6 separate regions of the Homo sapiens genome follow, and regions 2, 3, 4, 5 and 6 are each linked to region 1. The links come from fine-mapping of genetic effects on gene expression. A gene starts in region 1. Each other region holds a variant in brackets. All regions are shown on one strand. Distances are between the middles of the regions.

Region 1 (5,074 bases):
CCATCTCTTTTAAATGGCATTCACCCATCTCGCAGAAGAAACCTAGCATGTTCAACTATTAATCACATGGAACCCTCTTTGTTTTGTCAAAAACATCTGAAGTTGTTTTTGACTTTCCCTCATGGAACTTGTTGACTATTGGTCTCCTGCAGATACTTAGCTTTAGACAGAGTTTACCACCTGTGTTAGTCAGCTTGGGCTGCCATAATAAAATTCCAGACTGGGTGGCTTCAACATTAGAACTGTATTTTCTCAGAGCTGTGGAGGCTGAAAGTCTATGATCAAGGTATCAGCCGATTCAGTTTCTGGTGAAGGCTCTTGTCTATGGACCACCTTCCCATTGTGTACTCACATGACAAGAAGGGCAGGTGAGAGAAAGCATGCTCCGGTGTCTCTTCTTAGGAGGACACTAATCATAGCGGATCACGACCTCATTTAGTCTTAACTACTTTCTTACTCCAAATACATTACCATTGGATATTAGGTTTTGAAGACAAAATTTGAGGGGAACACACACAATTCAGTCCCCAGCACACTCACTTTGGGCTGCATTTCCAAATTCTCCCTGGCTACAATGGGCCTGAATTAGTAGCCCCTCTGTGTTAATACCCACAGCTGGGAGCGGCTCATGAGAAGCGTGGCCTCACCCAGAACACAATGCTGGATCCAGAGTGTAGCGGCTCATGAGAAGCATGGCCTCACCCAGAACACAATGCTGGATCCAGAGTGTAGCGGCTGGGGTAATCAGTCGTTATGCTCCCCACAGGAAATCTGAATGGCACATTCTCATGGCTGCCACAGGCTGACAACATGGAGCACCTATGCCTATTGTTACATTAGCAGGGCAGGTGGAATTGCTGGTCTCAGCTGTCACTTGCCTTAATAAACTGCATAATTCCATCAGGGACTCCAGTCTTGCTGAGCTTCCTGAGGTACTCGGTGATGTCACTGGTTTGCAGCCCAACGCTGACAGCTGCATACAAGGAGTAGGCAGTTAGTTTGTACTCATGCACATGGGTTGGTCGGCACACTGGCTCTGCAATAGCCACCAAGAAGTCTTGGGCATATTTGTAAACTGGAGAGAAGGCTTCCAAGAAGATATGGCCATCGGGAGCCTGAGAGATACCAAATGGACAAAACAGACAAGGAAACATGAGTTGCAGAGACTACTGGGCTCTTGCCCATATCATTATCAAGAAAGAATAAGCTGCCCAACACCACAGATATTCTTGCAAGCACTCCTTCAGACAACTGTGGGGCCTGTTACATTAATCAGATACAGAAGAGTAAAGAAAAATAGAAGAAAGTGTTTCCAAAGTCAACAGCTGTTTCCTACTATTCTGCACAGAGAAAGCCCATCTTACTGGCTATCCTCAAGTTACCTTTTGGCTAGATTTCAACTAAATGTATAACATTAATTATTTAAAGTAGAGCAAAAGCTTGCTACCGAACATGTCTTCCATTATTTGAGGAAACAAACTGTTACATGATAAATGCTATTTATTCGGCAGATAAAAGGATTCACTACATGGGGTAGGGCTGGGGAAGGAGTGAGAGTAAACCGAGGGGTTAGAGCTGTTGGAAGCCCAGGTCCGGCCGCCACACGTGTGCGCAACTGCTCGCTGTTGCCTTGGGCTGTTCCAACGTGTGTGGATGAAAATTCTCTCCCGGCCAGTTCTAGGGGCAGTATCCTGAATGTCAGTTTTGACTCTGAGGATGCCCAAGATTTAGCTGCCGCTCCGCACACTCCTGGGCCCTGCCCAAGCTAAGGGCATGCTTACCACCCAGAGGGGCCTGGAGGTGTGGTCGTCCTTCAGCGGCATTTGCAGCCTGTAGTCCTTGGCTCCATATTCATCCACTTTGGTGCCTGACTCATCCACCTGCTTCCCCGCCGCCGAGGGAACCGCTTCCTGAGGGTCGTTCCCCGGGGCGTCCTCTTCATCATCCTCTTCATCCTCATAGTGCCGCTTCCTGGATTTCTTCTTGTCTGCAAGATACCAACACAGAAGTAAGCCCAGCAGGAGCCTTCAGGGTTCCCTCCGCACCGCTTGGCAGCATTTCACCTGCGCCGCCGCAAACTCCTAGCTAAGAGCCACCTGCATCCCGCAGGCGTTGCGCCCCTCACCCGTCTCCCCTAGGCCGAGTTCGCTGGGCTGCGCCCAGGTCCAGCATCTCTCCCGCCCAAAGGCCTGTCCCAACGGGGTGCGCGCGGGAGGGCCAGCAGGGTCGGCCGGCGCAGAGGCCCGGAGCAGCTCCGAGGCAGAGCGGGGGGCAGGGCCGGCAAGGGCAGTCGTGGCTGAGCGTGCCCGCGCAACGTCTCACCGCGGTCCGCTCGGTCTCTTTTGCCCATGGCAGCTACAGCAGCAGAGAGAAGATGACCCCGCTCCCACAGGCCCGCCGCGGCATCCGCTCTGGGGGGACTTCCGGCTCAATCCGGAAGCTCCCTGTTGTCCACACAGGATGTCCCGCCTCTAGGCGCCGTGATGTGGGTGGCTGGAAGAGCGGAGAGCCAGCGACCGCCGATCTGTTAGCTCGTGCGACCCAGCGGCGGGGGTCCTCCACTGTTCATTTCTCTACAACTGAAGGAAAATACTGTGTGTTGAGCACCTGTGTAGTGCGCGAATTAAAGGCCTCATCCTTCTGGAACTTAAATTTTAATGAAGCCATGTGGGCAATAAATGTGTGTGTGAGAGAGAGAGAGAGAGAATGTGACCTGAGTCCATGGGTAAGGAAGAATTCTTTTTTTTAATTAAAAAAAATTTGGCTGAGCACGGTGGCTCACGCCTGTAATTCCAGCACTTTGGGAGGCTGAGGTGGGTGGATCACTTGAGGTCAGGAGTTCGAGGCCAGCCTGGCCAACATGGTGAAACCCCATCTCTGCGAAAAATACAAAAAAAAGTAGCCAGGCATGGTGGCACACGCCTGTAGTCTAAGCTACTTGGGAGGCTGAGATGGGAGAATCTCTTGAACCCAGAAGGTAAAGGCTGCACTGAGCTGAGATTGCACCACTGCACTACAGCCTGGGCGACAGGCCGAGAGTTCGTCTCAAAAAAAATTTTTTTCTTTTTTTTTTTTTTTTTTTTGAGACGGAGTCTCGCCCTGTCGCCCAGGCTGGAATGCAGTGGCGCGATTTCAGCTCACTGCAAGCTCCGCCTCCCGGGTTCATGCCATTCTCATGTCTCAGCCTAAATAAAGCAGATTACCCTCAATAATGCGGGTGGGCCTCATCCAAATCAGTTGAAGGCCTTAAGAGCAAAGACAGGTTTCTCAAGGAAAAAGGAATTCTGCCTCCAGACTGCAACACAGAAAGTTCTGACTGAGTTTCCAGCCTTTGGACTCAAAACTACAACATCAACTCGTACCTGAATTCCCAACTTGCCAACCCCCACAATTGCATGAGCCAATTCTTTAAAATCAATCAATCAATCTCGCTTGCTCAGTGGGCCTCTTGGTTCTGTTTCTCTGGAGAACGTAACACAGATTTTTGGTACGGGGAATAGGGTACTGCTGTAACAAATACCTAACAATGGGGAAGTGGTTTTCAAATTGGGTAATCGGTAGAGGCTGAAAGAATTTTGAGGCGCATGATAGAAAAGCCTCTATTGTCTTGAAGAGCCTTGGTAGAAGTATGGGCATTAAAGGTGATTCTGGTGACGGCTCAGATGGAAAGGAGAAATATGTTATTGAAACTGGAGGCAAGTGGTAGAGAGCTTGCCTGAATTGTATTCTGTTGGGTGGAAAGTAGAACTTATAAGTGATAAGCTTGGACATTTTGCTGAGGAAATTTCTACATGATGGTTCAAAGTGAGGCCTGGGCCAGGCGCGGTGGCTCACGCCTGTAATCCCAGCACTTTGGGAGGCCGAGGCAGGGGATCATAAGGTCAGGAGTTCAATACCAGCCTGGCCAATATGGTGAATCCCCGTCTCTACTAAAAATACAAAAATTAGCTGGGCGTGGTGTCGCGCGCCTGTAGTCTCAGCTGCTCAGGAGGCTGAGGCAGGAGGATCTCTTGAACTCAGGAGGCAGAAGTTGCAGTGAGCAGAGATCACGCCACTGCACTCCAGCCTGGGCAACAGAGCAAGACTCCGTCTCAAAAAAAAAAAAAAAAAAAACTGAGGCCTGCTTTCTCCTTATTGCTTATAGTGAAATGTGAGAAGAGATACACTGAAGGTGGAATTATTCAACAAAAAGGAACCAGAACTTGAAGATTTGGATCATTCTTATACTCACATTGTAAAAAAAAAAAAAAAAAAAAAAAAAAAAAAAAAAAAGAGAGAGAGAAAGTATGCTCTGGAGAAACACTAAGGATGTGGACAACCATTTATTTGCAAGAGATTAGGTGTGTGGCTTATAGACCCAATCACCCATCTCCACAGAAACCTGGACAGTTTTGACTAGGGTACATAGATGGGATGAAATGAAGGAAGGCTGTTGGACTCCCAGGATTCCACAGGTAGGAAAGGGATTGGCAGGGGCAGTTCAGAGGCCAGTGAGGCTGCTTCCGCCACCACAGGACTGAAAGGGACAGGCTTGGGTTTGAACCCACGGCCACCACCTCCTCAGTTCTGAGGGTGCGGGGCTGCAACCCCAGTGGGCCCTGAGGACAGAGGATCAAGCCAGTGAGGATTATTCTCAAGCCTTAAAATCCTGTCATTGGCCCTGTTAGGTGTCAGACTTTCTTGGCACCTCCAAGTCTTTTTCCTTCCCATTTCTCCCTTTTGGAATGGAATGTGTCTATCCTCTGCCTATACCATTGTAATTGGAAGCAGATAACTTGTCTGTTCTCATGGGTTCATAGATAGAAAGAAAATTTGCTCCAACAGGAAACCTAACCCAGAGTCAATTGATGTGGATGATTTGGGTGATGAGATTTGAACTGATATTTAGATGATACTGGACTTTGAGTTGATGCTAGAATGACTGACTTTTGTTGATGTTGAGATGGGGTGAATGTACTTTGCATGTGGGAAGGATATGAACTTGTAGGGGCCAGAGGACAGACTATGGGTTGAATTGTGTCCCCCACCCCTCAAAAAGTTATTTTTTTTGAGACGGGGTCTTGCTGTTGCCGAG
Region 2 (5,074 bases), 50 kb after region 1:
TTCTCCTGGCTCAGCCTCCTGAGTAGCTGGGACTACAGGCGCACGCCACCATGCCTGGCTAATTTTTTGTATTTTTAGTAGAGATGGGGTTTCACTGTGTTAGCCAGGATGGTCTCAATCTCCTGACCTCGTGATCCACCCGACTCGGCCTCCCAAAGTGCTGGGATTACAGGCATGAGCCACCACGCCCGGCCCAATGGGTTTCTGACACATGTTGGAAGGACACTGAATTGAGCACAAAACCAAAAAATACTTGGAAAATAATTTTTTCAAAAATCTTTTATCAGAAATGTTGAATTAAATACCTTATATGCTTATTCATGATATTTGAAAAATAATTACAGAAGAACATCCTCAATCAAAAATTCAAACATCTGTCATGGTGTTCTGTGACTAACTTTGTATGTTTTTAAGCAATGAATGTTGCCCTACTATAGAGCAGTATTATTTGAGGCTGACAAAAATAAATTTGATCGATACATAGAGTACAAGTGACAGCACCCAAAATAAAAAGTTGAAAGAAGTTCAGTAAAAGTACATCCAATTTGGAGCTGAAAGTAAGGCTGACTAGAGTGGAGAATTTGGGCTACAAGGGGGCACTGCTACTCATGACTACAGAAGAGGAAGTGGAAGAACAATTTTTAAAGTAGGGAGGTGAAGTCTAAGCTTACATACTTGCTACAATGACACACAGTGAAAGTGTCCTAGCCCCCACTTTCATCACATGGGCAAATATAAGTTCTTCATGAGGGTGTGTGTGTGTGTGTGTGTGTGTGTGTGTGTGTATTTGTTTTGTTAAGCAAGAAGTAGAAAATGTGTGATAAAGGCAAACTCTGGCAAGCAAATGTCAGAATTAAATCCCAGGATCAGTCTAAGTTTCAAAATTTAGCATCCAACTACTCAGTACCATTTTTCTTGATTTAGGATAGGGTGGGCCATTCGTGACTCCATTTCCTTCTAGTGTCTTCCTGTCTAACTAATTCCCTGCCTCATGCTGGAACCCTTAACACAAAGGAGAAAAGGAAAAAACAAAAAGGAGGTAAACAGGAAAACAAAATATGTAAACTGAACATACACAATCCATTCCCATACTTTAGTGTCTTTAAACTAACATTATACCACAATATACGACCAAGAGTTGTATAACATATTCTCCCTGAGCACCAATGATTTGCTGCTCTATGAATGATAAAATTAAATTTTATGATTTCTCTCTTGCCATCAGACTTTAAGCAAATCACAACACATCTTAACAGCTTATTTTGAATGTCCCTGCTGTTACGCATAAAATGATCATTCTAAAACTACAGCAACACAAAAAGTACTTTAATTCAAAGTCTATTAAGTAAATATAAAACATTTCATAAATCTGCTATATCATAAAATTTATTTATAAAAAGGTTTATAATAACACATAATAGAGAAAGTTTTTTCACTTCCATTCTATCCTTTAATTATTGCTGAAAAATGCTTTTAGTTTGAACTCACCCATTATGGCAAACAGCTCAACAATTTGAAAATTAGGAAAATGGTTCTCCCATCAGCATTCTTTATGGCCTGAGAAGATAAAACAGATCAGCATATTAATAAAAAGAAACAGAAAAGGAGCCAGGAAAAGAAAAAAAAAAGTCAGTTTAAATAATACTAATGAAAAATATACAATATGAATACTTTACACATTTCGCTAGGGGGAGGTGTTTTATATTGAAGGTTGATCATGTAGGCACCCCCTTGCCTAACACATACCAAAATTCCAGACTCCCAGAAGAAAAGCAGGTATTCAGCATAAACCATAGTGTTTGTACAAACCATTATCAGTTGGAGGCAGGAACTCTCCTGAAATCCAAGTTCTCAGGTGTCAGCCAAAGGCTAACTCCTAAGCAGGCCTTCTACAAATCAGCAATCAGGCCCACTACATTAACTCTTTTTCTATATAAACAGCAATAGGAAACTAATATGTTGGTTTAAAAAAAAAACTGCATAACGCAATAATTATAACTGTGTTGCTGGGTATACAATATATAATAATATAATTCACATAATATTAACAGCACACAGGAAAGGGAAAGGATAGAGTTACATAAAAGAAAGGTGTTTATGACCAAGTGCAGTGGCTCATGCCATAATCCCAGCACTTTGGGAGGCCTAGGCAGGCGGATTGCTTGAGCCCAGGAGTTCGAGACCAGCCTGTCCAACACGGTGAAACCCCATCTATACAAAAAAATACAAAAATTAGCCGGGTGCAGTAGTGCATGCCTGTAGCTCCCAGCTACTTGGGAGGCTTGAGGTGGGAGGATCACTTGAGCCTGGGAGGTTGAGGTTGCAGTGAGCTGTGGCACTCCAGTCTGGGCGACACAGCGAGACTGCCTAGAAGAAAAAAAAAAGTGTTTGTATACCATTGCAATTAAGTTGATATTACCTCAAACTATGTTATTATAAGATGTTAACTGTAATCCCCAGGTCAACTAGAAAATAAGATGAAAAATATGAGTGCCAACATGACACTATGAATGGAAAATTCCACAAACCTGTCCTCATGTGATATGTCACAGTCAAAAGGCAGATGCACAACTCAGTTTATTCAGCATCCCCCAGGAGAAAAGAGACCCTACCAGCCCCTTCCACTGTAATATATCTTTTCCATGCATGCCCAAATTCCCCCATGCAAGAGGCCTACAAGGGTAATAATAGAAACTTTGTTTCAGACACAAAATTATTTTAAAAATTGTTGGCTAGTACAGTGGCTCACACTTATAATACTAGCAATTTGGGGGGGCCAAGGTGGGAGGATCACGTGAGCCCAGGAGTTTGAGACCAGCCTGGGCAACATAGGGAGACTCCCATTTCCAC[CA/C]AAAAAAAAAAAAAAAAAGATTTAAAAAACAAAATGCCAGGTGTAGTGGTGCATGCCTGTAGTCCCAGCTAACTGGAAGGCTAAAGTGGGAAGACTGCTTGAGCCAGGGAGGTCAACGCTGCAGTGAACTATGATTGTACTCCAGCCTGTGTGACAGAGCAAGACCCTGTCTCGAAAACATTTAAAAAATTGTATAAAATTACCTTTAGCTATATGAATAAGATGTATATGAAACATAAAAGAATTTCATGTTTAGACTTGGGTCCCTTTCCCAAGATACCTCACTATGTATATGCAAATATTACAAAACATGAAAAAAATCCAAAAAACTTCTGGTCCCAAACATTTTGACCTGAATATGTTGCCTACAACAGACACTTTTTTTGGGGGACAGGAGGAGGGTCTTGCTCTCTTTCCCAGGCTGAGGTGCACTGGCATGATCACAGCTCACTGCAGCCTTGATCTGCCAGGCTCAAGCAATCCTCCCACCTCAGCACCCCCGAGTAGATGGGACTACAGGTGCATGCTATCACACCCAGCTGATTTTTAAAAAAAGATTTTGTACAGATTACCCAGACTGGTCTCAAGCTCCTGGGCTAAAGTGATCCTCCCAGTTTGGCCTCCCTAAGTGCTGGGACTACGAACCACAACACCTGGTCCACATTTTAAATTCGAAGACAAAATAGGTTGACAGTAAAAGGATAGAAAAAGATATACTATGCAAACAGTAGTCAAAACAGACCTGCAGTGGCTACACCACTATCAGGCAAAACAGACACAAAAATTGTTGTGACAAACAGCATTTTATAATGAAAGATAGCCAATACATCAAAAAGATATAGCAATTATAAACTTATATGTACCTAACAACAGAATCGCAAAATACACAATGCAAAAAAGTATAAAATTCAAGGAAGAAACACAATTCAAAAATAAAAGTTGGAGATTTCAATGCCCTGCGTTCAATAACGGATAAAATAAGTAGACAGAAAATCAATGAGGAAATACAAGACTTGTACAACACTATAAACTACTAGGCTTAACAAACACCTACAGAATAATCAACCTCAAAACAGCAGAATATACACTCTTCTCAAATACATATAGGACATTTCCAAGACAGACCAAATATTAGGTAATAAAACAAATCTCAGTAACTACATGGATTGAAATCACACAAAGTGTGTTCTCTGACAAAAATGCAATAAAATTAGAAATTGGCAACACAAGGATATCTGGAAAATTCACAAATATGTGAAAATTAAAAAACATAAAAATAATCAATGGGTCACTAGAAGGCATAAGGAAAATTAGAAAATACTTTGAGATAAAAATGAAAACACATCAAAACAAAATGTATTGGATGCATCTAAAGATAAAATTTATAACTGTAAATATTTACATTGACAAACAAGAAGGATGTCAAATCAATAACCTAACCTTTGACCTTAAAATACTAGAAGATGAGGAACAATTTAAATCTGAAACAAGCTAAAGGAATAGGGAGTAGAAAATAAAAATACCACTGAAATTTAAAAAAAAAATCAAGAAAACAAAAATTGGCCCTTTGAAAAGATCAACAAAACTAACAAACTTTTAGCTAATCAAAAAAAGAAGAGGGAAAACACAAATAACTAAATTCAAGAATTCAAAAGGGAGCAATTACACCAACCTTTCAGAAATAAAAAGGATAAGAGAATACTGTTAACAACTGTACATCAACAAATTAGATGACTGAGATGACACAGACAAATTCCTAAAAAGAAACAAATTATCAAAATCGACTCATCAAGAAGAAATTAAGAATTTGAACAGACCTATAAAAAGTAAAAAGACTAAATTAGAAATGAAAAATTTCTCACAAATAAAAGCCCTGGACCAGATCACTTCAAACATTTACAGAATTTACAAAAACTGGTTTTAAAAAAAAAAAAAAAAAAAAAAGAAGGAACACTTCCCAATTCATTGTGAAGCCAGTATTACTCCAATACCAAAACCAGACAAAGCCATCACAAGATGAGAAAACTAAAGATCAATATCTCATCAATACAGATGCAAAAATCCTCAATAAAATACTAGCAAACCTAACCTAGAACATTAAAAAACAAATTATATACCATGCACATTTGGGATATATCCAACAAAATCAAGGTTGGTTCAGCACATAAAATCCAATCAATGTAAAAAACCACATTAACAGAACAAAGAACAAAAACCAGGCAG
Region 3 (5,074 bases), 38 kb before region 1:
AGTAATATTTTTCTAGGCTCTGTATTCCATTCCACTGGTATATTTTTCTGTTCCTGTGCCTACTGCACTGTTCTTATAAATTCTCTTTGATATTTTTGTTTCTTTATTCTTTGACATTTATTTTACCATTAGTTTGTACGTTTCCATGAAAAATCTGGTTAAGAATTTGATTTAAAATAGGTTAAACCGGCCAGGTGCCGTGGCTCACGTTTGTAATCCCAGCACTTTGGGAAACCAAGGCAGGAGGATCACTTGAGCCCAGGAGTTCAAGACCAGGCTGCGCAACATAGTGAGACCCTGTCTCTACAAAAAATTTAAAAAAAAAATATTAGCCGGGCATGATGGCAGGTGCCTGTAGTCCCAGCTACTGGGTCGGACTGGGGTGCTGAGGCAGGAGGATCGCTTGGGCCCAGGAGGCCAAGGCTGAAGTGAGCTTTGATTGTGCCACTGAACTCACCTGGGTGACAGAGTGAGATCCTGTTTAAAAAAAAAAAAAAAAGATTAAATTAATAGGCTAATACAGGCAGAATTTACATATTTCATAAGATAATCCCTAAGCATTGCATATTTTTATGCTATTGTAAATAGTATTCTTGTTTCAACTTCCAAATGTTTGTCTCTAAGTATATAAAAAGATCATTGATTTTTTTTTTTTTTTTTGAGACAGAATTTTGCTCTTGTAGCCCAGGCTGGAGTGTAGTGGTGTGATCTCAACTCACTGCAACCTCCGCCTCCTGGGTTCAAGAGATTCTTCCACATTAGCCTCCTGAGTAGCTGGGATTACAGGCGCCTACCATCACACCTGGCTAATTTTTTTTGTATTTTTAGTAGAGATGAGGTTTCACCATGTTGGCCGGGCTAGTCTCAAACTCCTGACCTTAGGTGATCCACCTGCCTCGGCCTCCCAAAGTGCTGGGATTACAGGTGTGAGCCACTGCGCCCGGCCAATTGATTTTTTTTTTAATGTATCAATATTGTATTCTGCAATTTGTATTCACCCTTCCTCCATCCTTTTGTTCTGTCTGGTCCCTTGATGGGTATATGAGGCCCACCCACGTTGGTGGGGGTGGATCTGAGTCTACAGCTTCAAATGCTCCTCGTTCCTGGAAACATGCCCACAGACACACCCAAAAATGCTTAACCAGTGACCTGTCATCCCTTAACTCAGCTGACACCTAAAATTAACCACCACGTTTTCCAAATATTTGAGGGTTTTCCAGACTCTTTTTCTATTGATTTTTAACTTAATCACACTGTGGGCACAGATTACAGCTTGTATGGCTTAAATACTTACCAATGTACTTTCCAATGGACTTGTAGGGCCTGAAATTGATTCCGTCTTGGCAAGTGATCTGTGTATTTGAAAATAATGCTTATACTGCTGTTACTCAGTAGAGAATTCTGTAAACGTCAATTAGGTCAAGTTGGTTAATAGCATTGTTCAAGTCTTCTATATCTTCATTGATTTTAGTCTACTTATTCTAGAAATCTACAGAAAAATTTCCTAGAACTGAGTTTAGCATGACTGAGGAATGATATATAAAAACTGATATATAAAAATGAATTATATTTTTATATACTACCAACAGACATTTGGAAATTTAGATAAAAACTTGTTACATGATGTCAAATAAAAAATCTGGAACTCAAGTTCACAGAATAGACAATGTTAAGAAAAATAAGAAGAAAAAATCTGGACTTAGTAAAGGGAGACTTTATTTGAAAGGATTGTTGCAAAGTGGTGGGGAGGGGTGTACTATTGCAGCAGGGAGAATGCACTGAACATAAGATCTGTTTGTCTCAGGGTTAGACAAAAGGGGTTTTCTTTTATAGGGAGGGGAAGCAAGTAAAAGACAGGAAGTGGGATGAAGGGGAGTAGCATGGTGGGACAGTAGATCCAATCAGTGACTTACCCTGAGTCCAGTCTATTCTCTCGAGGGGTGGAGGGGAGGGTGAGCCAAAGTTTGTAAAGCAAAGTCTGGTTCACAAGCATTTTGTTCCCATTGATCACTGGGGACAAGCAGTTTAGCTAATTTATGAGGCAAAGAATGGGAATTTGGAAGGCCTGTGTCTGGCCTCGACTGGGGTCTTCAAGGGGAGCATTCATGAGTCATACCAGGAAGGATGGTTCTCTGCAGTAAGCCATTTTCCAGAACACCAAGGACAAGGGATTCCTTTAAATGTATCTATTTCCTAGGATCACAGTGCTCAGGTAAAATTCAACATTGTCAGTAGACAAGAAAA[CAG/C]GGGCCAGAAATGTGAAAATACAGGAAATGCTCAGTATTGTTTGAGGATCTCAAGTGTAAAGGCAAGACAGGAGGTAGACTGAAAAGAGTTACAGTCAAGTTTGAACATTTGAGTGCCGACCCATCAGGGTTACATGACAGGCGAGTCTGTGGGCTCAAGCCCGCACCTCAGACAGGGCTGCTCGGGCCCCCTACTCCTAGCGAGGGCCCTGTTGCTGGTTCCTGGGGCTTGCACTGATAGTGGCTAGATGCCTGGCAGCACCAGCTACTGACCAGACTATGAGAGTGTGTTTGTCACCAAAAGGTCAGCTCAGAGAGGCGGTATGTGGGGCAGGTGGCTCTTGCTTCAAAGCCCCCTGATAAGAGAGGTATTAGGTTGGTGCAAAGGTAATTGTGGTTTTTGCCAGTAAAAGTAATGGTGGCCAGGTGTGGTGGCTCAAGCCTGTAATCCCAGCATTTTGGGAGGCCGAGGCGGGCGGATCACAAGGTCAGGAGTTTGAGACCAGCCTGGCCAATATGGTGAAACCCCATCTCTACTAAAAATACAAAAAGTTAGCTGGGCGTGGTGGCGGGCGCCTGCGGTCCCAGCTGCTTGGGAAGCTGAAGCAGGAGAATCGCTTGAACCCGGGAGGTGGAGGTTGCAGTGAGCCAAGTTCGCACCACTGCACTCCAGCCTGGACAAAGAGTGAAACTGTCTCAAAAAAAAAAAAAAAGTAATGGCAAAAGCTGCAGTTACTTTTGCACCAACCTAATACTTTCTTCTCCTCAGTCTGTGGCTGCATCACAGAGAGTAGCCCACCTGTGCTAGAGCTGAGGACAGGAAGCTGCTGCCGAGCTGTGGGGATGGGGAGGGACTCCACTTGGAAGCCTTATGTAGCCAGGGTTTCAACACTCCCCAAGTGTGAGCGCTGTTTCCTGTTACAGGCAGAGTGGGCTTCCTCCTCAGAATCACAAGTCTTTCTGCAAGGCGAATATGCCTTATGTGTGCCTACCTTTCAAGAAGCAATCCTACCTGGCCTGTCTATTCCTCAACACCTTTGCTTTCATACCAGGAACATAAAAGAAAAGCCCAAAGCCATTAAAAATAAAGGAAGTAGCAATTAAAACACCCAAGGGCACTAAACTGCTATTAGAAGAGGAATCTAGCCTCTCAGCAATTTCTAAAAACGTACTTTGAGGGAGAAACAAGAGGTCACTCTCTCAGAGAAGATGAGGCACCAGGAGCCAACCTGGAAGGCCTTCATGACGTGGGTGTCTACCTCGGACGAGGCTGTAGGAACAGCTGTGACCACCAGAACAGCAGGAAGCTGTGCGGTTGAAGCCCCAGTCTGAATCCACCAGGCTAAGCTGTGAGCAGGGACCACAGTCAACTACCCAGGCTCTTCCCTCTGGCTGGATCACCCTCCCCGTTCCCCAGGCCTTTCCTGCCAACGTTTCTTCTATCTCAGGGTACATCTCTCTGGTAGCTCCCTGGGGATGGGCTCCATCTTACTCATCTGTGCTTGCTACAAAGTAGGGCCTTGATGGAGGTTGGTCATCCAGACATAACCCATGCCCAGGACGAAGCATAAAAACACTTGTACAATGAAGACTGGTTCAATGGTCCATTCTGTTTATTCAGAACGGTAACATAAATACACCTTAAATATTAACATTTTTTATATACAGAAATGACCCCACTCCCCAAAAAGTTTGAAAAAATATTGTCTCCTCCTCCTTTATAAAACCCTAGATGACCTATGAAGGCACAGCCAAGCCCTTGATGCATCTTCCTCAGCACAATTTGGCCAACGCTGGAGGGAAGGTCAAAGAGGTGGAAGGAAAATGTTATGCTGAAAATCCCTTTCCAACAAGGGTGCCAAGCGCCGGTCTTGAACGAAGTACCCTGCCTAAGCATCATTTCCTAAAGCGCTTGAAGAGCGGGTGTACATGTTTGCTGGGCGCCTTGCTCCGCGATGAGTGGTACTCCATGTACACAGTGTCGTCGGCCCCAGACATAGAACTCATGGTGCCAAAGCGCCGAGATGCCTGCCGGGAAGGGGGAACCAGCCCATGTTAGTCTCCAGAAGAAAAGATACTCCTTTTATAATACTTATAATCACAGCAAATTTTATAAGACTTACATAAATTTAATACATCATTTTTAATAATGTTTACAGATCGCTTACTGTCTCAGGCATTGTTCTAAGCATTTTACATGCATTATCTCCTCTAATCCTCAAAACTACTATAATCCACACCTGAAAGAAGAGGAAACTGAGACACAGAGAGATTAACTAACCTATCCAAGATCACATAGCTCTTAAGGAGATGGGATTTGAACACCCAGGTAGCCTGGCTTCAGACTGTTCTTAACCATAATGCCACACTACCTCACTTAATAACAACTTCTGAACAAACTTTTTTTTTTTAAGAGAGAAACAGGGTCTCGATATGTTGACCATGCTGGTCTCAAACTCCTGGACTCAACTGATCCTCCCGCCTAGGCCTCCCAAAGTGCTGGGATTACAGACATGAGCCACCATGCCTGGCCTGAACAGAATTTTTTAACAGTTAGGGCAAAAGTTCCTTAAAATCTCCTGAGACACCACCATAAGGCTTTGAATCAAGTGGAAGGACAGAAAGCCCTGGGCTTGACTCTTGGCTCCTCCTGTCCCTGAGTAACCCTGAGGCAAGTAATTAATGTCTGCACCTCAATGACCTCATCTGTAAAATGGGGATAACCACATCAGTGCTGACATTGCTATCCTGTGAGGAGAATGAACCAGGCACCTCCTTAAAACCAGTGAGAGCAATGAGAGCACTCTCCTGGGTTCCCATGGAGAGTG
Region 4 (5,074 bases), 26 kb before region 1:
CGATGAGGTCTCGCTATGTTGCCCAGAATGGTCTTGAACTCCTGAGTTCAAATGATCCTCCCACTTTGGCCTCCCAAAGTGCTGCGGTTACAGGCATGAGCCACTGTGCCTGGCCAATTGTGTGGTTTTGAGAGTTCTTCCTGGTACTGATTTCTACTTTTATTCCACTGTGACCCAAGAAAATGCTTGGTATGATTTCGACTTTTTTGAATTTATTGAGTCTTTTTTTTTTTTTTTTTTTTTTGAGAGAGTCTCGCTCTGTTGCCCAGGCTGGAGTGCAGTGGCGCGATCTCGGCTCACTGCAAGCTCCGCCTCCCAGGTTCACGCCATTCTCCTGCCTCAGCCTCCCGAGTAGCTGAGACTACAGGCAACTGCCACCACACACCCGGCTAATTTTTTGTATTTTTAGTAGAGACGGGGTTTCACTGTGTTAGCCAGGATGGTCTCGATCTCCTGACCTCGTGATCCACCCGCCTTGGCTTCCCAAAGTGCTGGGATTATCGGCGTAAGCCACCACACCCTGCCGAATTTATTGAGACTTTAATAAAGTCGAGCATAAAGTCTCACATTGCTTTATGGCCAAACACATGATCAATTATTTTTTTTTTTTTTTTTTTTTTTTGTGACAGAGTCCTGCTCTGTTCCCCAGGCTGGAGTGCAGTGGCATGATCTTGGCTCACTGCAACCTCTGCCTCCCGGCTTCAAGTCAGTTCTCCTGCCTCAGGCTCCCGAGTAGCTGGGACTACAGGCGCATGCCGCCACACTCAGCTAATTTTTGTATTTTAGTAGAGACGGGGTTTCACCGTGTTGCCCAGGCTGGTTGCAAACTCCCGAGCTCAGGCAATCTGCCGGCCTCAGCCTCCCAAAGTGCTGGGATTACAGGTGTGAGCCACGGCACCAGGCCCATGTGATCAATCTTAAGAGTATATTCTGGGGGCAGATGAGAATATATATTCTGTGGTTGTTGCGTAGAGAATTATGTAGATGCCTATTAGGTCCAATTGGTCAAGTGTTGAATTTTAAGTACAGAATTTCTTTGTTAGTTTTCTGCCTCTATAATCTGTCTCATGCTGTCAGTGGGGTGTCAAAATCTCCTACCATTGTTGTGTGGCTGTCTAAGCCTTTTCCTAGCTCTAAAAGTACTTGGTTTATGAATCTAGGTGCTCCAATGTTGGGCGCATATATATTTAGGATAGTTAAGTCTTCTTGTTGAATTGAACCATTTATCATCGTGTAATGACCTTTTTGTCCTTTTTTACTGTGGCTGGTTTAAAGTCTCTTTTATCTGATGCAAGAATAGTGACCCCCTGCCCCACTCTTTTTTTTTTTTTATTTGTGTGATAGATTTTTTTCCCTATCCCTTTACTTTGAACCTATGAGTCCTGTTACATGTGAGAGAGGTCTCTTGAAGACAGCAGAAGGCTGGGTCTTGTTTTTAATCCAATTTGCCACTCCAAGTCTTTTAGGTGGGGTGTTTAGGTTGTTTACATTCAAGGTTAATATTGAGACATGAGGCTTTATTCCTAACATGGTGTCATTAGCTGGTTGCTCTGTAGTTTGGATTGTGTAGTTGCTTTACAGGGTCTGTGGGCTATGTGCTTATGTGTATTTTTGTGGTAGCAGGTGTCACCATTCTTTCATTTCCATGTTTAGAACTCTCAAGACTCTCTTGTAGGGCCAGTCTGGTGATAACAAATTCTTTTAGCAGTTGCTTGTCTGGGAAAGATTTTATTTCTTCTTTGCTCATGTAGCTTAGTTTGGCAGGATATGGAATTCTTGGTTAGGATTTTTCTTTTTTATTTTTTTTCTTAAAGAGACTGGGTCTCACTATGGTTTTTTGGTTTTTGTTTTTTTGTTTTGAGACAGAGTCTTGCTGTTGTTGCCCAGGCTGGAGTGCAATGGTGCAATCTCGGCTCACTGAAACCTCTGCCTCCTGGGTTCCAGCAATACTCCTGCCTCAGCCTCCTGAGTAGCTGAGATTATAGGCACCTGCCACCACGCCCGGCTAATTTTTGTATTTTTAGTGGAGATGGGGTTTCACCATGTTGGCCAGGCTGGTCTGGAACTCCTGACCTCAGGTGATCCACTCACCTCAGCCTCCCAAAGTGCTAGGATTACAGGTGTGAGCCAC[C/T]GCGCCTGGCCTGTTTTTTTGTTTGTTTTTGTTTTAAACAGGATCTTGTTCTGTTGCCCAAGGTGGAATACCGTGGTGAGATGTCAGATCACTGCAACCTCTGCCTCCCAGACTAAAGCGATTCTCTTGCCTCAGCCTCCGGAGTGGCTGGGACTACAGGCGCACACCACCACACCCAGCTAGCTAATTGTTGTATTTTTTGTAGGAACAGGGTTTCATCATGTTGCCCAGACTGGTCTCAAACTCCTGAGTTCAAGCAATCTGCCTACCTTGGCCTCCCAAAGTGCTGGGATTACAGGTGTGAGCCGCCGTGCCCAGCCAGGATTTCTTTTCTTTTCTTTAAGAATGCTAAAAACAGTCCCCCAATCTCTTCTGACTTGTAAAGTTTCTGCTGAGAAGTCTGCTGTTAGCATGATGAGTTATATGACCCTTTCTCTAGCTGTCTTTAAGATTCTTTCTTTTGTATTGACCTTGGAAAGTCTGACGGCTATGTGCTCTGGGGATGATCATCTTGTACAGCAGGAAGAGTCATTCTCACCCTCGATCTTAGCAACCTTAGCATATGATTTTTATTCCCTTGCTTAAATTAATAACTTTTACCTTTTCGCTTTAAGAAAGCACTTTACAGCTTCTCTGGCATATCTGAATTGCTAGCATCATTACACTTGTGCTTTGGGGCCATTAGTAAGATAAAGGTTACTTGAAAACAAGCACTGAGATACAGTGACAGTCCGTGACAACTGAGATGGCTACTAAGTGACTAATGGGTGGGGAGAATTTAAGCATGAATATGCCGCACAAAGCAAGAATTCACATCATGGATGCTACTCAGAATAGTGTGTAATTTAAAACTTATGAATTGTTTATTTCTGGAATTTTCCATTTAATATTTTTAGACTACAGCTGACCATGCGTAATTGAATGTGGAAAGGAAAATTGCAGATATGGGGGGACTACTGTATTAAAAAACTAGGACAGAAAATTCTGTGGCCTGAAAGACTTGATCCTTCAGGAAAATCTGAACATCTTTGCTTTGTAGTTCAAATGTCAGTAGGTTAAGCATACTGCCCTTGAATGTAATTGTTTCTCAAATCTTACAAGAGCTCAGAGATGCAAAGAAAGGAGCCAAGTGTCATGTTAAACAGTGTTTTGAGTAAGAAAACAATTCTATTCACTTTTTTTTTTTTTTTTTTTTTTGAGATGGAGTCTTGCTCTGTTGCCCAGGCTGGAATGCAGTGGCGCAATCTCGGCTCACTGTAAGCTCTGCCTCCCGGGTTCACGCCATTCTCCTGCCTCAGCCTCCCGAGTAGCTGGGACTACAGGCACCCGCCACCACGCCCAGCTAATTTTTTGTATTTTTAGTAGAGACGGGGTTTCACCATGTTAGCCAGGATGGTCTCAATCTCCTGACCTCATGATCTGCCTGCCTGGGCCTCCCAAAGTGCTGGGATTACAGGCGTGAGCCACCGCGCCTGGCCTTCTATTCACATTTAAGGGAGTTTTTAAGGCTAGGCACAGTGGCTCACACCTGTAATCCCAGCACTTTGGGAGGCCAAGGTGGGTGGATCACTAGAGACGAGCCTGGCCAAAATGGTGAAACCCCGTCTTTACTAAAAATACAAAAAAAATTAGCTGGACGTGGTGGTGCACGCCTGTAGTCCGGGTACTCGGGAGGCTGAGGCAGGTGAATCACACTTGACCCCAGTAGATGGAGGTTGCAGTGAGCCGAGATTGTGCCACTGCACTCCAGCCTGGGTGACAGAATAAGACTCTATCTCAATCAATCAATCAATCAATCAATCAATAAAGGAGTTTTCAAATTAGAGTAAGGAATAAGTAATGAATTATATTCACATTTGCTAGCAGATCATAGTCCTGTCAGTTTATAAAAGCTACTGTCTCAGCCTCCCAAGTAGCTGGAACCACAGGTACACACCACCACGCCCAGCTAGTTTTATTTTTTGTAGAGATGGGGTCTCACTACATTGCCCAAGATGGTCTCAAACTCCTGGGCTCAAGCTATCCTCCTGCCTTGGCCTCCCAAAGTGCTGGGATTATAGGTGTAAGCCACTGTGCCCAGCCAGCCGACTACATTTTATGACTTATAAGCTGAATCCTCACAGCAGTCTTGGCAAGACAGGATTGTCACCCCCACTTTGGATGGGAAAACCAAGTCTCAGAGGAGAAAATAATTTGCCAAAGGTGACACAGCTGGCTTGGTGCCTGAGTCCATGCTATTTCTAGTCCATGCTATCTGCCTCATCTCCATTTTAAATACAAGCTACTAGACGCTTCTTAAACACATCTGAACGCAGTACAGTTCCAACAGATGCCCACTAATCTTGTCATTTTCAAACATTCTAGCAGTCCAGATGCCTCCTTGAATAAGCAGACTCCTTGAGGATAGGGCTTGTGTCCTTGTCTCAGGATGTGCCCTGGTCCCAGTAAGACAGACACGGCCATCTCTTAGCAAGAGTGTCAGTCCCTGCCATGTCCACAATGGCAGTCTGGGCCCTTTTACCGCAGTAAGCAAGCACAGGGGTGCCACGCCTCCTCAGAAAAAGCCTTTGCAATGAGGATTCTCACCTCCTCACTCACTGAGCTTGCCCTGCCCCTGCTGCAAGCTGCCACCAGGGCGGCACTCTGCACAGGTTATGAATGACGTGCCCATTGTGTGTCTGCCCAAGCTGCTCCTACCAAACCTTTCCCTGCCTCCTGATCAAGTTCCAGAAGCAGCTTCCAGCTCCTCCACTTACACTGGTGGCCCAGCTCTGTTTTCTCCCTTCCATGTCTACCCCATAAGCACTGCCTTGCCCTGGCTCCCTCTCACCATCTACCAACACAGCTGCACAGTGTACAGAGCACATCTGTGTGGATTCCGTGACACTGTCATGGAAAACACCTGCATATTCACCCCCAAGGTATGAGAAATAATGATGGGCC
Region 5 (5,074 bases), 330 kb after region 1:
CAGAGGGCCCACCCCTGGGAACCCACGGGATGGCAAGCAGGGCCCATGGGCTGGGGAGAGGAGGGAGGTAGTGGATGGGGGGTTGGCCTCCTGTCCATAGGTTCCAAGAGGCCAGGGAACTGAATCTCATCTGTCCCCAGGCTGTCAAGTCCAAGAAGCACATCCCCATCCAAGTCATCTTGGCCACTGGAGAGAGCCTAACCGTCCCCGTGGACTCAGCCTCCACATCTCGGGAAATGTGCATGCACATCGCTCACAAGCAGGGCCTCAGCGACCACCTGGGCTTCTCCCTCCAGGTCGCCGTGTACGACAAGGTACCAGCCAGGCACCCTGCCCGTCAGCCGCCTCCCTCATACACCCAGGGAGAGCACCCTGAGGCTCAAGCCCTCTCACCTTTCCAGCCCGGCCACCACCTACCCTCCCAGCTGCCAGGCACAGCACTGCTTACCCTCCCAGCCACCAGGCACAGGCAGGTGCACACACACAGAGCAAACAGCCTTTCCTCCCGCACTCATATGGTCACCTTGCAGCTGCGCCTCAGCCCCAGCAGTGCCGCATGCACACCTGGTCCCCCACCCAGCAGCCACGCACAGACATCAGGCACTCACACCAGTCTCCTGCTCCAAACTCCCTCATGCCCAGGAGCTGTGGACACCCCTGCAGCAAACATGGAGGGTCACACCAGCACAGACCCTCACCGCCCACATAGGCACCCCCAATTCCACGCCCACACCCTCAGACTCACACACCAGTCATCCAACCGAGGCGCCGGATGAGTCACATCGGCCAGACTCATGTCTGCCTCCTTAGGGAAGGGGCTGCAGGGAGAGTAATGGGGAGTGGCAGATGGGCCATTGCTGTGTGGAGAAGCCCTTCAGGTGTCCACACGGGCTCAGCAGTGTCCACTCAGCCCACGCTGGGCTCCAAGGGCCCCAGGCCCTGTCTTCTACGTGCACACGCTGACGGTGGGCGTCCCCGTGGGGTGGGGCATGCAACAGCCGCTAACCCCTGCTCCCCGACTCTGGCCTCAGTTCTGGTCCCTGGGCAGCGGGCGCGACCACATGATGGATGCCATCGCCCGGTGTGAGCAGATGGCCCAGGAGAGGGGCGAGAGCCAGCGCCAGTCACCCTGGCGCATCTACTTCCGGAAGGAATTCTTCACCCCCTGGCACGACTCCCGGGAGGACCCTGTCAGCACCGAGCTTATTTACCGCCAAGTCCTCCGAGGAGTCTGGTCTGGCGAGTACAGCTTCGAGAAGGTGAGGGGCCTGAGAGCCAGGTCCACCCTAGGCTTTGCCATCAGGAAACATCCCATAGAGGAGGCACCCAACTGGCTTCTGAGGCCAGGTAGAAGGTGGGGGGGCAGGAAAGGGGGTCACAAGGGTGTAGGTCCCTTCCAGGCCCAGCCTCTGTTTCCTCCTCCCTTAGGCCACAGGTATGTCCAAGCCTCCGGGGTCCGTGGTTCTGGCAGCAGGTCCCAGAGGGCCCAGGCCTTGCCTGGCCTCACCTCTCCTGCTCTGTTTATGGGGCAGTGAGATCTGGTGGCCAAGAACATGGCCTTGGAGCCCTAACACCTAAGTCTGAATCCCACCTCCCCATCTTCTTGGCATTGTGACCTTGGAAAGTCCTGTCACCGCAGAGCCCTGGGCCCTCATCTGACTGGGGGGCTCGGGAGGGGCTCTCACCTGGACCGTGCGGAGTGTACCGGGAGCTCTTTTGTAGGGGATTGTGAGAAAGCAGAGTGATCGTACCCCTGAAGTTCTGGGGGCAGCAGGCACAACCCTCCCTGTGCCAAGTCAGGCAGATGCTGTTCCGGGACCCATTGGAGGCGGCCATAGCAGTGCAGGAAGCCCGCCTGGAAGAGGCATGGGCAGGGGGTGGCAGGGGACCAGGCTCCAAGAGGCTTTGGTCTTCCAGAGGGAAGGGGCTCCTTGGGTGCTGCCCAGCTGGGCCCCAGCAGAAACTCCGCAAGGGGGGCTACTGGTCTCCCTTGACAACCAAGGACTGGAACTCAGATGAGGAAACGCCTTGTCACTCAGAGCAACCCTGCTGGGTCCACCCCAGAACTGGAGAGCAGCCGTTGTCCTCAGGCAGAGGGCCTGTGAGGCTCTGGCCAAGGCCTCTGGGATTCCCAGCCTGCATGGTGGCCCAGTCAGGGCATGCAGGGAGGGGGAAGGTCCTGCCCGAGCCACAGGTTAGCTCCCCTGTGATGGGGCAAGAGCCCGGCCACGGGACAGGGGCATCCTGGGGAAGGGGGGAGCTCTCACTTGTCTCACTCGCCCCCGTGGGTGCCCTGGGCTGTGCAGGAGGAAGAGCTGGTTGAGCTGCTGGCCCGGCACTGCTACGTGCAGCTCGGCGCCTCAGCAGAGAGCAAGGCTGTCCAGGAGCTGCTGCCCAGCTGCATCCCCCACAAGCTGTACAGGACCAAGCCCCCAGACAGGTGGGCGAGCCTCGTCACTGCCGCCTGCGCCAAGGTCAGCCTGCATGCAGCTCAGGCACCCACCCGAGGGCTCTCCTTTGGGAGGTGGGGGGGCTCATGGTATACAGAGGAGATGGATTCCCTCCCCACAACCCCC[AC/A]CCCCTGGGGAACAACAAGCCTCAGCTTGACAGTTAAGTAGAGCCCTGTCCCTTCAGGTTTAAGCAGTCCCACTCAGTTCAGCTCTCTGTCACAGGCCCATGCCACCTTCTTCCTTCCAAGCTGGCATCTTGGATGGGTCCCTGTGCTGGTCTGCACTGTGGTGTCTGGCCAGGCCCTCGCTTCTTGGGATGAGAGGGCACCTGCAGTGGCTGACTGCTGACCATACCATGGCCTTGGGGGCCCCCCTGCCTGCCTCTGGGCCTCAGCATCCCCTCGCTGGGTGCATGGGAACCCCCCAGGCCAGAGTGTATGGACATTCTAAACATTCGATACATATCGAATATTTTCAAATCACCCTTCAGATTTGATGCATTTATTACATTCCCAAAGCCAGTATATGAATAGTACCCAGCCACTTTTCTAAGAAATAACGCTGTATTCAACAGTGAAAAGAGAGTTCGGTTGGATATTATAGTCGGTGATGGACACAGCACAGTGGTGCTGGGGAGAGGAACGGGTGAAGGTGGGGAGTTAGGAAAGAGGAAGGAAGGAGACTGGAAGACAAGGAGCTAGAGGTGGTCCCCGAGAGAGGCCCCCAGAGACACAGAAGAGCTCCAGAGAAGAAAGAAGAGAGGCACCCGGGACACAGACTCGGAGCAAGATGCCCTCCTGCACGGAACGAGTCACAATCCTGCAAGGCATAGGCTGGCAAGAGCGAGCCTGGGCTGGGGCACACAGACAGCGCCTTCCACAGCTAGCGCAGCCCCGCCCTACAGATGCTAATGAGGGGACGGGATGGCCTTCCTCCCTCCTCCTAAAGGGTCCCCACACCCCTCCCAGGTAGAATAGGGTGGCGCCAGGCTGGACGTGGTGGCTCATGCCTGTAATCCCAGCAGTTTGGGAAGCCAAGGCAGGTGGATCATCTGAGGTCAGGAGTTTGAGACCAGCCTGGCCAAGGTGGCAAGACCCCCTCTACTAAAAACACAGAAATTAGCCAGGCGCAGTGGCACGCGCCTGTAGTCCCAGCTACTCGGGAGGCTGAGGCAGAAGAATCGCTTGAACTCGGGAGGCGGAGCTTGCGGTGAGCCAAGATCGCACCACTGCACTCCAGCCTGGGTGACAGAGCGAGACTCTGTCTCAAAAAAGAAAAAAAAAGGATAGGGCTGCACCAGTCCCTGGGGACGTCCCAGGTGCCTCCCTACAGGATCCATCTCCAGACACTGGCCTTGTAGAGCCTTCTCAGAAGGATCCATCAACTCTTTTACCCTGAGCACTAGGTGAGGGATTCACTAGGGAAGGCAGGTGACGGAGGTGACATCCAGGATCCCCCCTCAGGCCCCATACACTCAGAAGCAAGTCACACCACTGGCCGTGCGAGAGCAGGTGGTGGACGCCGCCCGCCTGCAGTGGCCGCTGCTCTTCTCCCGGCTCTTCGAAGTCATCACACTCTCAGGTAATGGCATCTGACAGGGGGCAGGGAGCAGGTATGGGCTGGGCACCCAGGGGTCCCATGCAGCCTTCACACTGCCGTCTCTCCTGGCCAGGCCCCCGCCTGCCCAAGACGCAGCTGATCTTGGCTGTTAACTGGAAGGGGCTTTGCTTCCTGGACCAGCAGGAGAAGATGCTGCTGGAACTCTCTTTCCCAGAGGTCATGGGTCTGGCCACCAACAGGTGCGGGCCCTGAGGGAAGATCTCTTCTTACACACTGAGTCCTTGTGATGCATCTGGGGGCTCGGGGAGAGATGGGGAGAGGGGCAGTGTGCCGTCCCGGGTAACAGGCCGGGGTGGAGGGACAAGAATCTACGTATGCGATGGCTTCTGTACTTCGGAGCCCCACCCTCCTGCACCAGGCCGTACTGCCCATGAAGTACTCCATTGGGGCATCACGCGTTGCACTGGCAGCTTCTCTTTGAAACCCAGGTCCACCCGGAAGGGGCAGGGAAGCGTGCAGCCTCTGGCGGGCACTTATTTAGAAGGCTCCTTTCTTTGTCATGGACGAGAACTGGTGGCCTGGAGGGTACAGGTTGTCTGGGAAGGCGACAAGGGACAGTGCCTGGTGTGTCCTGGGGCACAGGGCAGGGCTGGGGGTCCTCTTAGGCTGGGGCTGACCCCCACTCCCATGGGTCTCCATGGATCTCATTGACTGGGAACTTTTCCATGCCCTTTGGGAAGTCCCACCCAAGCCCTGCCAGAGCGCCCCTTGGTTGAAGCACACAACAGAGTGGCACATGCATCTCTGGGCTGTGCCAGGTGTACAGTGGCCACCACTCCCCACTGGCCACCTCTCACTGAGGCTGACCATGCTGGGCACTTTCCTGTATGCCACGAAGTACCGACAGCATCACCCATTCTGCAGATGAGCGGATGAGTAAACTGAAGCACGCCGAGGTTAGGTGGCTCAGAGTAAGCACATGGCAGAGCCGGCAGCTCATCTCAGCTCTGACCTTTGCAGTGTCCCTGCGGTGTCACTGCACACCAGCCACCTCATTATCTGCC
Region 6 (5,074 bases), 68 kb after region 1:
GCTGAGCAGGTGCCAAAATCATGCTTCCTATAAAACCTGCAGAACTGTGAGCCAATTAAACCTCTTTTCTTTATAAATTATCTAGTCTTGGGTATTTCTTTATAGCAGTGCAAGAATGGACTAATACACCTACCATATGACCCACCCATTCAATGCCTACGTATTTACTCAAGAAAAATGAAAGCATATGTCCACATGAATATACTTGTACACAAATGTTCTTAGCAGATTTATTTGTAATAGCCCAAAAGTGGAAACCCAAATGTCCATCATCAGGTAAATGGTTAAACAAATTGTGGTACAGCCATACAGTAGAATAAATAATATTCAGCAATAAACAGAAATAAACTATTGATACATACAATAATACGGATGAATCTCAATTATGCTGAGTGAAAGAAGCTAGACTCTTCCCCACTTCAAAAACAGTACACACATACACTGCATGACCCCATTTATACACAATTCTAGAAAAGGTAAACTAATCTATGGTGACAGAAAGTAGATCACTGGTTTAAAAAAAAAAAAAAAAGCAGATCATTGGTTATCTAGGAACAACGGATAGAGGTAAGACAGTGACGAATTACAAAAGAGCCTGAACAAACTTTCAGAGATGATGAATATGTTCACTATCTTATTTATAACTACCAAAACTAGGGGTGACAGTTTGACAGTTATACACATATGTCAAAATTTGCCATAATTATATACTTCAAATGTGCAGTTTATTGTATGTTAATTATCTCAAGTTATTTTACAAAATTATTCTTTAATGCTACTAGCTCTGCAACTCTGATCATTGATTTTAGGCCAATTTATGAATCACACCACAAATCTCATTACTCTGCAGACATCTTTGCTTTTGATTTTTAAAAAATATATTACTTAAACTGGTGATTCCTTTGTTTGCCAGACCGTAAATGAACTGAGTTTTTAAAAAATGAAGTCAAATCTGTCGTCATTGGTTACATATATCCTAATTGCAAGTATTCAAAAATTCTGAAGTTAATTTCAAAGAAGTATTTCCCACATAACACCAGTCACCTCTGAGAAAAATTAGGTGGCTGCAGGTAAAAGGAAGAGAGGAGAGGGTTCTGAGACCTTTCACTGTGTATCCTTCCAAACATTTTGAACTTTGTACCCTATCATTTACTCAAAACCATATAAAATTCAAATTTAGGCAGGGCGCGGTGGCTCAAGCCCGTAATCCCAGCACTTTGGGAGGCAAAGGTGGGCAGATCACGAGGTCAGGAGATCGAGACCATCCTGGCTAACACAGTAAAACCCCGTCTCTACTAAAAATACAAAAAATTAGCTGGGCATGGTGGCAGGCGCCTGTAGTCCCAGCTATTCGGGAGGCTAAGGCAGGAGAATCGCCTGAACCCGGGAGGCAGAGGTTGCAGTGGGTGAAGATCACACCACTGCACTCCAGCCTGGGGGACAGAGCAACACTCTGTCTCAAAAAAAAAAAAAAAAAAAAAATTAAAAGGGAATTTAAAAAGTGTTCTCCCAACATTTTAAGTAATAATATAAAAGCAACAATATAGAGCCTCCCAGAATGAATAAAAGAAATAATACTTCCATAGATGCAATAAATTTGGTTAAGTTTTAATAACTTAATAGTCATACCACATATGTAATCTCAAATTGTTTGAATGATCACACTCCACATAAAGTGGCAGTCATTTGTAAACATGCCTGCACATCCTCAGAAAGGCAGAGAAAAATCTAATTTTCATCTAGTGGTCCCTGTGGTCCTAGTAATTATCACATTTGGGATGTATTTGCTTCCTTTCTCTTATCGAGTTTTAAAAGGTCTTTTAGTTGATAAAATGTTTTATCATTTCTTGAATTAATATTTCAAAAGAATGTGTAGTTTATTTGGCAAATAAATTTGAGTTTTTAATATTTCCTTAGGACACAAAGTATTGTAGAATGTTTTAGAGTCACATAGGGACCTGGGTTCAAAACCTAGCGGTAGTTATAGGTGACTCTCGGCTATTACAAACCCATGTCCTTGTTTATGAAATGAAGATAGAAGAGACTATATGACAGGTTTGCTTTAAGTGCTGAATAAAATAATATATAACACCTAACACAAACACCTGACACCTTATCAGATGTCAGTTCTCTTCCTCCAAACAGCTCAGTGTTAAAGGCAATATTCAACTCTAAGCGGCAAATTGATTTTTCTCCTTTTTAAGGTATTACTCAGACAATATATTTGTAATTTTTAACAGATCCCTTCTTACTCATCCATACTTTCTCTCTCAGTGGGTCATGTTACATACAAAAATAAAGACAGCAAGAAGAGCTCAGACGGTGGAACCAGACTGCTTGGGACTGAAATCGGCATTTGCCACTTACCAGGTGTGTGACCGCAGGCAAATGACTTAATCTTTCTTTGCCTTGATTTC[T/C]TTACTTGTAATATGGAGATTTATGGCATAATAGTATCTCAAGATTGCTATGGAAGTTAAACGTTTAAGTTAATGTAAAGTGCTTAGAAAGAGGCTGGCATATAGTAGTAATTATGCAAATGTTTGTTAAACAAAATTAAGTTGATACACACTTAGGGGTTTCCCCCACCCCACTTAGTTCTCAATACTGAGAATGCGGGGGAATTTGTTTTAAATGTTTACAAATGTTTACAAATCTTAATTTTTTTTCTATATTTGATTATTTTAAAGAGGAAAGAAGGTAGCTCTTAGAACAAATTTAGACTTTAAAAAAAATTCTCAATCTGTACCCTGACTGTTGTCCCTGATACTGTTATCAGGCACTAGAAAAAAAGCAACAACCCATAATTGGTTTACCAAAAACATCACTCAACTGTTTATGGACGATAATTAGCAATAACGGCTGTCAGTGCCACGGTTCCTCTGTAAAAACGGAGACAACTGTATCTACTTTATATGATTGTTACAAACATTTAATATTATTTGTAAAGCACTTAGAACAATACCAGAGCAGAGTGAACATTTAAAAAATAGCTAACATTTATTAGGTTCAGAATTTGAGCCCAATCCTGGGCAGAATCCACTTCTACACACTACAGTTGGCCCTCCCTATCTGCACATTCCGCATGTGTGGATTCAACCAACTGGAGATCGAAAACAAATTTAATTTAAAATAATGCAACAATAAAAAAACACAAAAAATGCCGTGTAACAATAATTTACACAGCACTTACACTGTGTTAGGTATTACAAGTAATCAAGAGACAATTTAAAGTATACGGAAGGATGTGTGTAGGTTGCATGCAAGTACTACTCAATTTTATATAAGAGATGTTGAGCAACTGGGGATTTTGGTATTTGTGGGAGTCGAGGTTCTGGAACCAATCCCCCGCAGATACCAAGGGATGACTGTGTATTACACTGCCTCTCGTTGTTTGTTTATTTTTTTCAACCAACATTTAACATATGCTTACTGTGTGCCAATATGCTCTCCTCACCAATCTTGATTTTAAAAATGATAAAATGCTAACATCCTCTAAAAATTAAAAATCCTTCCAAAGTAAGCAGAATTTATACCTTAATACTTTATTAATATAATAAAACCATGACCAAGGCTTCAGTCAAAATCAGTTCATATTGAACAACATATTAATATTTTGCTGATGGGAGTTTAACACTTTCTATTGCAAAACTCCCCAATGATATCAAACACAGTACTTCTCAGTCAGAATTCTGAAGTCAACACGTTGCCTGAACCTCAAACTCCAACACAAAAACCCAAGACTAGCCAATTCTCTTCAAATCAATTCCTGTAATCCTCTTCATTCCATGCTTTGTAAAAATGTTATTTGTGTAGCTGGCTGTCTTCATTATACAGGACCTTTTAAAAATGTATTTACTTATTTATTTTAGAGATAGAGTCTCACTCTGTCACCTAGCCTGGCTCAAGCAATCCTCCTACCTCAGCCTCCTGAGTAGCTAAGACTACAGGCACACACCACCATGCCTGGCTAATTTTTCAATTTTTACTAGACATGGGGTCTTGCTATGTTTCCCAGGCTGGTCTTGAACCCCTGGCCTCAAGTGATCCTCCTGCCTCAGCCTCCAAAGTACTGGGATTATAGGCAAGAGCCACCAAGCCCAGCCAGGAAACACTACTTAGGTATCTTTCTATCTCCCACAGCACCTAACAGTACTTTGCACATAGCTAGCCTATTACCAAACATCTTAAATAAATTGCAAATTTGACTCTCCTTACAACCATAACATAATATAGCACACATATGTTTCAGTCAATCTAACCTATCTGCTTTTCTCAAAGGACTTGCTATTAATAGAGCCCCCTTCCTGGTCCTTGATTTCTGCTCATCCCTTGAATACCCATCTCCCCTCTCTTTAGTAAATCTTACTACTAATTTGCATCTCAAAACAATTTACCCAGGAAACCATTCGGATAACCAAAAGAAGCAAATAGATAATCAAAAAAAGCAAAGAGTAGGAGTCAATAGGTTCTGAGTTATACTACGAAGTGTTCCATATGCCTTATTGATAGCTACTTTTTGTCTCTGTGCTGTCTGAAATGCTTCCTTTTTTCTACTTGTCCAAACCATCTTTTAAGGGCCCAGCTTAAGCCCTCCCTGTCCTCTTCACCTGGTCATCTTACCATGTATAAACGATAATGGAAAAGAATTATCGTCTGTGGACTGTCAGACGATGTGCTAGACATTTCACATACACTACCACCTAACCCTGGCTACACTGGAATGACAGCACTTGCCATCTCTCCACTCATCACACAGTCACCTTTCTGAAAGGATATTACCTCATAGAACAGCTTCCTAACTATTCCATATTTTTACATGTGCTCTCTGCCACTAGACTACAATAACCTCAAATATAGGAACTATGTCTTCTACTTTATTCTGCACTCATCTTCTTTTCCCTCCACCTTTCCCCTCATCTTTAAAAATATACCCCTCCTATTTCTCAATCTCTTCTCATTACTACTGCAATGACTACTAATAAAAGCTACTATTGACCAGGCGCAGTGGCTCACGCCTGTAATCCTAGCACTGTGGAAGGCCAAGGCAGGCAGATCACCTGAGGTCAGGAGTTTG

Alleles and levels. Positions count from the first base shown, and alleles are read on the strand shown. Sizes are in standard deviations (SD) of each study's normalised expression. Not every link is listed here.
With allele CA in place of C in region 2, the expression in subcutaneous fat of the gene that starts at base 2,413 in region 1 is higher (moderate effect, 0.73 SD a copy in FUSION).

What was found. PIP is the estimated chance that this variant, and not a neighbour inherited with it, causes the effect.
Region 2: its variant is fine-mapped to the expression of ERCC3 in subcutaneous fat (FUSION, PIP 0.95).
Region 3: its variant is fine-mapped to the expression of ERCC3 in whole blood (TOPMed, PIP above 0.99).
Region 4: its variant is fine-mapped to the expression of ERCC3 in whole blood (TOPMed, PIP above 0.99).
Region 5: its variant is fine-mapped to the expression of ERCC3 in ovary (GTEx, PIP 0.96).
Region 6: its variant is fine-mapped to the expression of ERCC3 in whole blood (INTERVAL, PIP 0.97).

What each region holds. Positions count from the first base shown.
Region 1 is chr2:127,291,732-127,296,805 of GRCh38, forward strand. ERCC3 (ERCC excision repair 3, TFIIH core complex helicase subunit) reads right to left here and starts at 2,413. Exons shown (of 15, transcript NM_000122.2): 1 at 2,323-2,413; 2 at 1,782-1,987; 3 at 879-1,115. The coding sequence starts at 2,350.
Region 2 is chr2:127,341,638-127,346,711 of GRCh38, forward strand. It overlaps MAP3K2 (mitogen-activated protein kinase kinase kinase 2), which reads right to left. Exons shown (of 17, transcript NM_001371910.2): 2 at 1,489-1,557. The coding sequence starts at 1,492. Among named protein-coding and RNA genes, the nearest start is that of MAP3K2-DT, 43 kb to the right of the region's middle. The variant CA/C (reference allele first, on the strand shown) is at 2,851.
Region 3 is chr2:127,253,454-127,258,527 of GRCh38, forward strand. ERCC3 (ERCC excision repair 3, TFIIH core complex helicase subunit) reads right to left here. Exons shown (of 15, transcript NM_000122.2): 15 at 3,837-4,274. The coding sequence ends at 4,143. Among named protein-coding and RNA genes, the nearest start is that of CYP27C1, 36 kb to the left of the region's middle. RefSeq lists a silencer at 1,746-1,946. The variant CAG/C (reference allele first, on the strand shown) is at 2,245.
Region 4 is chr2:127,266,112-127,271,185 of GRCh38, forward strand. The region is part of intron 12 of ERCC3 (ERCC excision repair 3, TFIIH core complex helicase subunit); the gene reads right to left. Among named protein-coding and RNA genes, the nearest start is that of ERCC3, 25 kb to the right of the region's middle. The variant C/T (reference allele first, on the strand shown) is at 2,132.
Region 5 is chr2:127,623,062-127,628,135 of GRCh38, forward strand. MYO7B (myosin VIIB) reads left to right here. Exons shown (of 48, transcript NM_001393586.1): 29 at 141-314; 30 at 1,032-1,259; 31 at 2,307-2,474; 32 at 3,914-4,031; 33 at 4,123-4,249. It overlaps MYO7B-AS1 (MYO7B antisense RNA 1), which reads right to left. Exons shown (of 3, transcript XR_923314.3): 3 at 2,936-5,074. Among named protein-coding and RNA genes, the nearest start is that of MYO7B-AS1, 5.2 kb to the right of the region's middle. The variant AC/A (reference allele first, on the strand shown) is at 2,577.
Region 6 is chr2:127,359,853-127,364,926 of GRCh38, forward strand. All of the region lies in intron 1 of MAP3K2 (mitogen-activated protein kinase kinase kinase 2), which reads right to left. LOC124906074 (a long non-coding RNA gene) reads left to right here and starts at 2,275. Exons shown (of 4, transcript XR_007087227.1): 1 at 2,275-2,370. The variant T/C (reference allele first, on the strand shown) is at 2,418.